Homo sapiens: one gene and its partner. The protein of the gene in region 2 purifies or fractionates together with the protein of the main gene of each other region. This does not show direct contact. Each region holds a gene or a part of one and is shown on either strand. Other genes may lie near its edges.

Region 1 (4,180 bases), on a different chromosome or scaffold from region 2:
CTTAACTCGTCTAAAAAAATTAAAAAAGAATTTAAGAAACCACAAAGCTAAGCTGGGTGCGGTGGCTCACGCCTGTAATCCTAGCACTTTGGGAAGCCAAGGCATTCGGATTGCCCAAGCTCAGGAGTTCGAGACCAGCCTGGGCAACATGTTGAAACCCCATTTCTACTAAAAATACAATAAATTAGCTGGGTGTTGTGGCATGTGCGCCTGTAATCCCAGCTACTCTGGAGGCTGAGGCGCGATAATTGCTTGAACCCGGGAGGCAGAGGTTGCAGTGAGCCGAAATCATACCACTGCACTCCAGCCTGGGCGACAGAGTGAGTGAGACTCTGTCTCAAAACAAAACAAAACAAACAAACAAAAAAACCGGAAACCACAAAACTTTTTGAGGACAAGGACCAGGTATTTATTAATTCTCATACCTCCCAGAGTGTTAGGCACAAAATAAACATTCAACCAAGACCTGTTGCACTGAGCAGTTCATATATAACAGGAGTGACCCAAGTTGAAACGTAGAATCAGCCCTCTCATACCACTTTTTGCCAGGTGATCATAGGCAAGTTACTTAGCATCTATGTTTCCTTATTATTAAAATGGTCATAATTACAATGCCTAAGATAAGGGGTTGCTGTGAAGATTATTAAATCCTCAGTAAACTTTGGCTATTGTTACTCCTATGATTATCATCAATATCATCAATTACCTTATCTGTTCAATACTGGTGGCACAGGTCCACCAGCTAGATGTCTAATCCCTTATGTGTCTATTAGTGGTACAAGTGGAGTTTGAGTGGGATTTTTTTTTTTAAGACCAGTTCCAAATCATCAAGGATGATACCACTAGTAGCAGCTTGTCTTGTCTGTACAGTGGTAAGTCCTGGCCTTGCCTTTGTGGCAAATACAACCCCCTTGAATTGCTTGGCCCTTCTCAGCATTGCCTAATATTAGGGAGGACTCCTGTAAAGCTCACTGGTTAGAAGATCAAGACACTTGGGCCTGGTTCTGCCCCTGGGGGCCATTGGGTAATTCCTTGCAGTCTCCAGGCCTCACTTGCCCTCTGAACAAGAAAGAGGCTGTTCTGGGTCATCCCTCCAGGCCTGTCCAGCCCTGGCACTCTGTGAGTCGGTTTAGGCAGCAGCCCCGGAACAGATGAGGCAGGCAGGGTTGGGACGTTTGGTCAGGACAGCCCACCGCAAAAAGAGGAGGAAAGAAATGAAAGACAGAGACAGCTTTGGCTATGGGAGAAGGAGGAGGCCGGGGGAAGGAGGAGACAGGAGGAGGAGGGACCACGGGGTGGAGGGGAGATAGACCCAGCCCAGAGCTCTGAGTGGTTTCCTGTTGCCTGTCTCTAAACCCCTCCACATTCCCGCGGTCCTTCAGACTGCCCGGAGAGCGCGCTCTGCCTGCCGCCTGCCTGCCTGCCACTGAGGTATGTGTGACCCCCGCCCAGCCTTTCCCTTCTATAGTTGCACCAACCCCGACACCCCCGTTCACGCCGTCAGCTCGTGTGCAAGGGAGGGAAGCTCTGCTGAGGATGCGCCTCTCCTCCCGGCTCCATCACGGCTCCCCTTAAGAGCATGGCCCTCGGTCCTGTCTGCCTGTTGCTTTTCAGAAGGTGGACTCACTGTGTAACTTTGTCTTCCCTTACAGGTTTACAGAAAATAATCTCACTATGTCTTCGGGGGAGCATTTTCTCACTCTCTGTTTTTCTCTGTGTCTGTCTCTGGTTTCAGAGGCTGCCTGCCTGTCCTCTTTGCTCCCTTTGCAAATGTGGCAGCCTCCTCCTTTCCTGGGAATCTGATCCCATCACAGCTGCCACAGGGACCTGGCCAGCAACCGGAGTCTGTCCTCCAGATCTCGGTCAGGGGTTCTGTTTTCCAAAAGGGACTTTGCACGAACAATCAGTTGATCTCTGAAAGGCAAAGGGGGAGGCTTCACCATTAATCCACACCTCTGGGAAGCCTTCTGTTTTCCTCTAATTCTCCTCACTCCCAAACACCACCTTCCGTCCCCCCAATACACAAATTTCAGCACCATTCTGCCTGAAATGGCACCATCACAACCTCAGTCTTGGGTTAGGTGTTGTTCCTGTCCTGAGTTCCTTGGGATGGTAAACACAGGCAGTAGCCCTTAGTTTATCTAGATCTGAAAACCCAGACATCAGATATCGTCAACCAAGACATGGGTGTAATGGGAGGTGGAGTGTGCTGGGGGAGATATTCTCAGAAGGGGGAAAGGGGGAAGGGAAGAGGGAGAGAATTCCAGGGTCCCCTTCCGTAATCCACCCAAGACTAGTGTCCAGCCTGTCAGGGTGTCAGTTCTTCTTCAGACAAATCCACTACCTTTCTTCGCCGCCACTGGCTCCGTGAACTGGCTGTCAAGTGGACTTCCTTAGGGAAAGGGACTCCAAGGACTCCAAGGGAAGGGGGGCACTGGGATGAGTTATGTCTTCCAGGATTCCCAGTCTGCCCAAAAGGGAACAGAGAGGCATGCATTTTCCTCAGGAAAGGACAGCATTTTTTTCATTAGAGAAAATGTTTTCTCTAGTAATGCTTTAGAGTTAAATTTCTATACGCCCCAAGTGCTGGTGGTTTAGTGAGAAGCAAAGCAGAAGTAGGACACAGGCTTCGGGCATGCATTTTATGTGTGATCTTAGGTAAGTGTCTCCCCTGGATTTAGTGCCCCATCTGTAATGAAAGAAGGCTGAAACTGAAGGCTCTTTGGGGTGCTTTGTGTCCTCTAAAATATTCAAAGGAAGATTTCTTAACCAGGGTCTATGGAGTGGTCTTTGAATGGGCCTCAAGCCATCTCTAAGCCCCTAAAAATTGTATGCACTGTGTGTGTGTGTGTGTGTGTGTGTGTGTGTGTGTGAGAGAGAGAGGGAGAGAGAGAGAGAGAGAGGATGAATATGGGTGGTCACAGCTTTCAGCTTTAAGATATTCTCAAATGGATTAGAGGGCATGACGTGGGGATGGAGTGAGGACTGGTAACAAATGTGTGTATTTGCTGGAGGATGAAGCCTTCTGAAAAGGGAGTGGTTGAGGAAAGAGAGAGTTAACTCTCAGCTATCAGCTGCCACATCGACATAGCCTAGAGCAAAGAGGGGGAGGGAGGAGAAGAAGGGGGTTGCCTGGAGAAGGAATCAACTTTTGAAACTTTCTCCAAGTCCCACCCACCAGAAGGCTCTTCTCTGCCTGACTCACTCTCCGAGGAATGCGAGTTGCCACGGTAACCTTTTTTTCAGGGTCTCTGCCTGCTGGCTGGAGGGGACCCTTGAAACCCTCTAAGAACATCAGTCTGAACGTACCCCACCCCCAAATTCAAGGCCTGCAGCAAATTCTAGGCCCTGCCCTTGTGATCTCTCAGGATTCCGGGGAAGCCTTGGGCCATGATAATCTCCTTGCAAGGGTGTTTGAAGACCTGGGTTTTAGCTCTGGCTGTGCCCTGAAGGTACCATTTGACCTTGAACTAATACTTCTTTCTGGGCCCCATTCCCTCTACAGTTAAAGAACAGTAACAGCAGCCACCTCTAGGGGGTAGATAGTGTGTAGAAGAAATGGGATAATGCACAGGGAAGCACTTTGCGAATTGTGGCATTCCCTCATAATGCAAAGGGTTTTAGAACTGATGGATTAAAGGCATCCAAAGACCTAGTGAAATCATTCTCAGCTTTTTTTTTTTTTTTTTTTCCTGGCAGCTCCATCATCTTGGGGTTTGTATAGAACTTTCCTTTACTAGAAGTACTGACAGGAAAAATTTTAAAATCATAATATTGTTTATCTTCATTTTGATTTGGGGAACTTCTTGTGTATTTCCCAAGACTGTTGTGCCCTCTATGTAGGAAAAGCATTGGCCAAGGGTGAAAAAAAAAAAAAAAAGTGTGTTCTAACTCCCAGTGCCTGACATTGGGAAAGACACTTCCTCTCTTGAGGCTGCAGTTTCCCAAACTGTTAAATAGAGTTTCTAAGCTAGATGATTTCCCAGGCACCCTTCTAACTCTGAAGTCCTATAAACCTAAATCCCAGATACCGCTTTTATTCAAAGGAATAGCTTGCCTGCATTTTTAACACCGCCTTACTGCACCCCCAGTTGAAAAGAAAACAAGAAAAGATGGGCTAGGGGATCTTGAGTTGCATAACCATCATGCTGTAATCCTTATCCATCTGTAGAGATTTGTC
Region 2 (3,500 bases):
ATGACCAAAGCCGCCTTCTTGACCTCATCCTGGGACCGACCGTCCGTGACCACAACCAACACCTTAGGGACATTCTTCCTCATGCCGCTCTCCCAAGTCAAGACTTTCTCCTTGATAAACGTGAGGGCCTTGCCTACAGAATGTGGCATGGAAAATTTTAGTGTCACTTCAGTGAAAACTACCCAAATGCCATTAGTCACACCCAACTGATAAGAATCTGGATATCAGCATGAGATAATACACTCAGTTCTGCCACTACAAATGCTTGAAGAGTAAAGGTCTACATATACACATACCTGTTCTTGTGTTTCCTCCTCTGTACCTAATATTCTGGAGGGCCCCAAGGGCTAGGGCCTTGTCATTGTACGTGTTCAGCTTGAACTCAGACTTGACCTCATCGCTGTATTGCACAAATGAAACCTGAAGGAAAATGTGATTTGGCAGTGAGCATAAGTCATCTCATTTTATGTTTCAATCTTCAAATGATTCTCTAGCTGCGGAATAAAGCGGTGGGGGTGTAAAAAGTATCTCAGACCTGATAGAATATTGTAAGCTCTTTATAGCTAATATTACAACATCTACTGCACTTGTCTCATTAAATTCGTTAATTTTCAATCTTCAATGAAATTGTCATAATTGGCATTAATAATGAAAATATACTATATTCACGTTGTGCCTTTCTCTAGGACATAGAAAGGGATGAATAAAGGTGGGGAGTGGTGAGATCCCAGGATTAGACATGAGAACATACCATCTCGAATCCAAATGTTGGTTAAACAGTTGACTCAGCCAACTGCTACTTCCCACTGACTATATCCGTTCTTTATGGCAATACAGAAATGTCACATGTGTGATTATAATCATCCCTCATCACAACCTCATTGAAAATGGGATTTAGTGGAAAAAGTACAGACTTTGTACTCAGGAATCGCTGGGTTCAAATCCTAGCTCTGGCATTTAATAGCTATGTGACAATGGATTTTTTTTATCAGTAAAATGAGGATAACTATACTTACCTTCTAGGATTGTTTTAAAGACTAATAATCCTGTATACAAAGTAACTGGTACATAGATGTTAATAAAATATGATCAGTATTTTTTTTAGAAATACAAATTCCTAAAAGGATGAAAAAAGCTTGCTAGTTGAATTAATGTGGTTAAATTAAGAATATAACCACATTAAATTAAGAATATAACTAGGGTGAATTTTTACTCTTCTTGGGTTGGATCAATGTCCAGAGGATTATTTGAGGATTTGAAATTTAGTATACTACTATTCCATAAAAGAGGACAAGTTTTGTTGATGAAATTGTTTGTGGTTTATTTCAAAATAGCTTATTTTCATAATGCCACAATGATGATCAAACTGCCAAAATAAAGAAGAAAATTCACCAAAGAAATGGGAAAGAAAAGGAGAGAATTGTTTTTTAAAAAGATAGTCTTCTGCTTTAAGGAGTCAATGATTTAGATAGAAGATTAGACAGAACAGAGTCACACAATTAATGACAATATGAAGTGATATTTGTTGTAATGCAGCAATATAGACAAAATAATTCAAAAGCATGGAATGGGTAAAGCCATCATGGAACCTCACCAGAGGGGGTGAAATTTTAATTGGGTCTTTTAACTGTGTTAGGGTTACATGATGATTTATTCTTTGAGGCCCCTCCCTCATGGAAATATAAACTTCTCTAAGTACTTCAGTATAACAAATATATTTGGAGTGATTTCAGAGCAAGATAATTGGTAGTTATCCTTTTAAAAAAACAAATGAAATACGCTTTAGCTCAACAATGGACCTTCTTCTGGTCAAGGTAATTATCTGCAAAGTAATGATAGAGGCAGCAAGTTCCACACACCCACTCCAGTCACTGTTTATCACTGATTCTTCTAACTTCACAGGGGATGACAATCACAAAGAATTTAATATCCAGAACTTTGGATGAACTTCTATAGAAATGTGTCATGATTGGAAGTTTTAAGCAGGAAGTTAGAGTCCCTTAGAATCCCCTAAGTTCTCCAACAGGAATATTATCTAGCCAAAGATAAAAACTAAGGGAACATTTATTTTTCTATTGATTTATCATTTATACCCAATTCCCTCCCAAAAATACATGAATAAAAGAAATAGCAAATAGGAGAAGGTCAAAACAGAGTTTATATTGAAAAGACTTTTTACTTAAAAAGAGAAGTTCAAAGGAAAGGCAAGACATCACAAATGAGTAGCCACTGGCGGAATGACACTAACCTGAATCCCAGCAGGACTGATTTCATCAAAGCCTCCCACAGTATTGAAGATGAATTTTACAACTTTGTTAAAATTATCGTCCCCAATGCTCCAGGAGGCATCAGTCAAGAACACAATATCTGCCTTGGCCCCTTTGCATACTGCAAAAAAAGAAAGCAGAGGAAGCCCCAAATCTCATGAATTCTTTCATTTAAATGAAATCACATAATTGAAAATGCAATATAACACCTTGCTACGCAAAGTGTGGTTCTGCAGCAACAGCACTGCCTGGGAGCTTGTTAGAAATGCAGAATCTTGGGTCCTACCCCAGACTTCCTGAATCAGTACCAGCAGTAATAAGATGACTCACATGCACAATAAATTTAAGAAGCATTGCGGGGACCCTCAATACCTGCTCTGGAATTACTCCATTTGTTTAGATCCATTATGCAAAGATACAATCTTACTTAATGGAACTCTTCAAGTAGTTTTGAACAATAAATGAGAGGAGAAATCAAATAAAAAGTTTGGAGATTTGAAATGTAATTATTAAAGATTGACTTTATGCAAATAAGTCCTTTTTTTTTTTTTTTTTTAGACAGGGTCTTGCTCTGTCTTCAGGCTGGAGTGCAGTGGTGTGATGATCTTGGCTCACTGCAAACTCCACCTCCCAGGTTCAAGTGATTCTCCTGCCTCAGCCTCCTGAGTAGCTGGGACTACAGGCATGTGCCACCACGCCCAGCTAATTTCTCTATTTTTAGCAGAGACGGGTTTAACCATGTTGGCCATGATGGTCTCGATCCACCTGTCCCGGCCTCCCAAAGTGCTGGGATTACAGGCGTGAGCCACCGCACCTGGCCAAGTCCTTTGTAAAATTTAAATTAAGCCACTAGAATCATATGCAGGAAAGGAGAAGATTTTTATTGGAATATCTAGACTTAGAGGCTAAGAAAAAATTCCAAAAACAATTAACAAAATTTTAGTTTATAAAAACTTAGCATATAGAAGTATAACACCAAGAGTGAACCCTAACGCAAACTGTGGACTTTGGGTGGTGATGATGTGTCAATGTAGGTTCATCGGTTGTAACAAACGTACCACTCAGATGTGGGATGTTAATAGTGGAGGAGGCTGGGCATGTGTGGGGAAGGGCAGTCTGTCTGGGAGATGAAAAATCTCTGCATCATCCCTGCAATGTTGCTATGAACCTAAAACTACTCTAGAAAATAAAGCCTATTTAAAAAGAAAAAACTTGTTTTTAAACCAAGATTAT

The links. Proteins that work in one complex are often made in the same cells at the same time.
Region 1: the proteins of COL12A1 (region 2) and SPARC purify together in Homo sapiens (co-immunoprecipitation; one large-scale study listed by IntAct). This does not show direct contact.

Annotation. Positions count from the first base shown.
Region 1 is NC_000005.10:151,684,116-151,688,295, reverse strand, and holds the start of SPARC (SPARC isoform 1 precursor), read left to right. Parts: upstream 1-1,380; 5' UTR 1,381-1,431; exon of another isoform or gene 1,432-1,914; intron 1,915-2,344; exon of another isoform or gene 2,345-2,467; intron 2,468-4,180.
Region 2 is NC_000006.12:75,119,054-75,122,553, forward strand, and holds part of COL12A1 (collagen alpha-1(XII) chain long), read right to left. Parts: intron 2,389-3,500; coding exon 2,249-2,388; intron 421-2,248; coding exon 297-420; intron 134-296; coding exon 1-133. UniProt on the Homo sapiens protein: Type XII collagen interacts with type I collagen-containing fibrils, the COL1 domain could be associated with the surface of the fibrils, and the COL2 and NC3 domains may be localized in the perifibrillar matrix.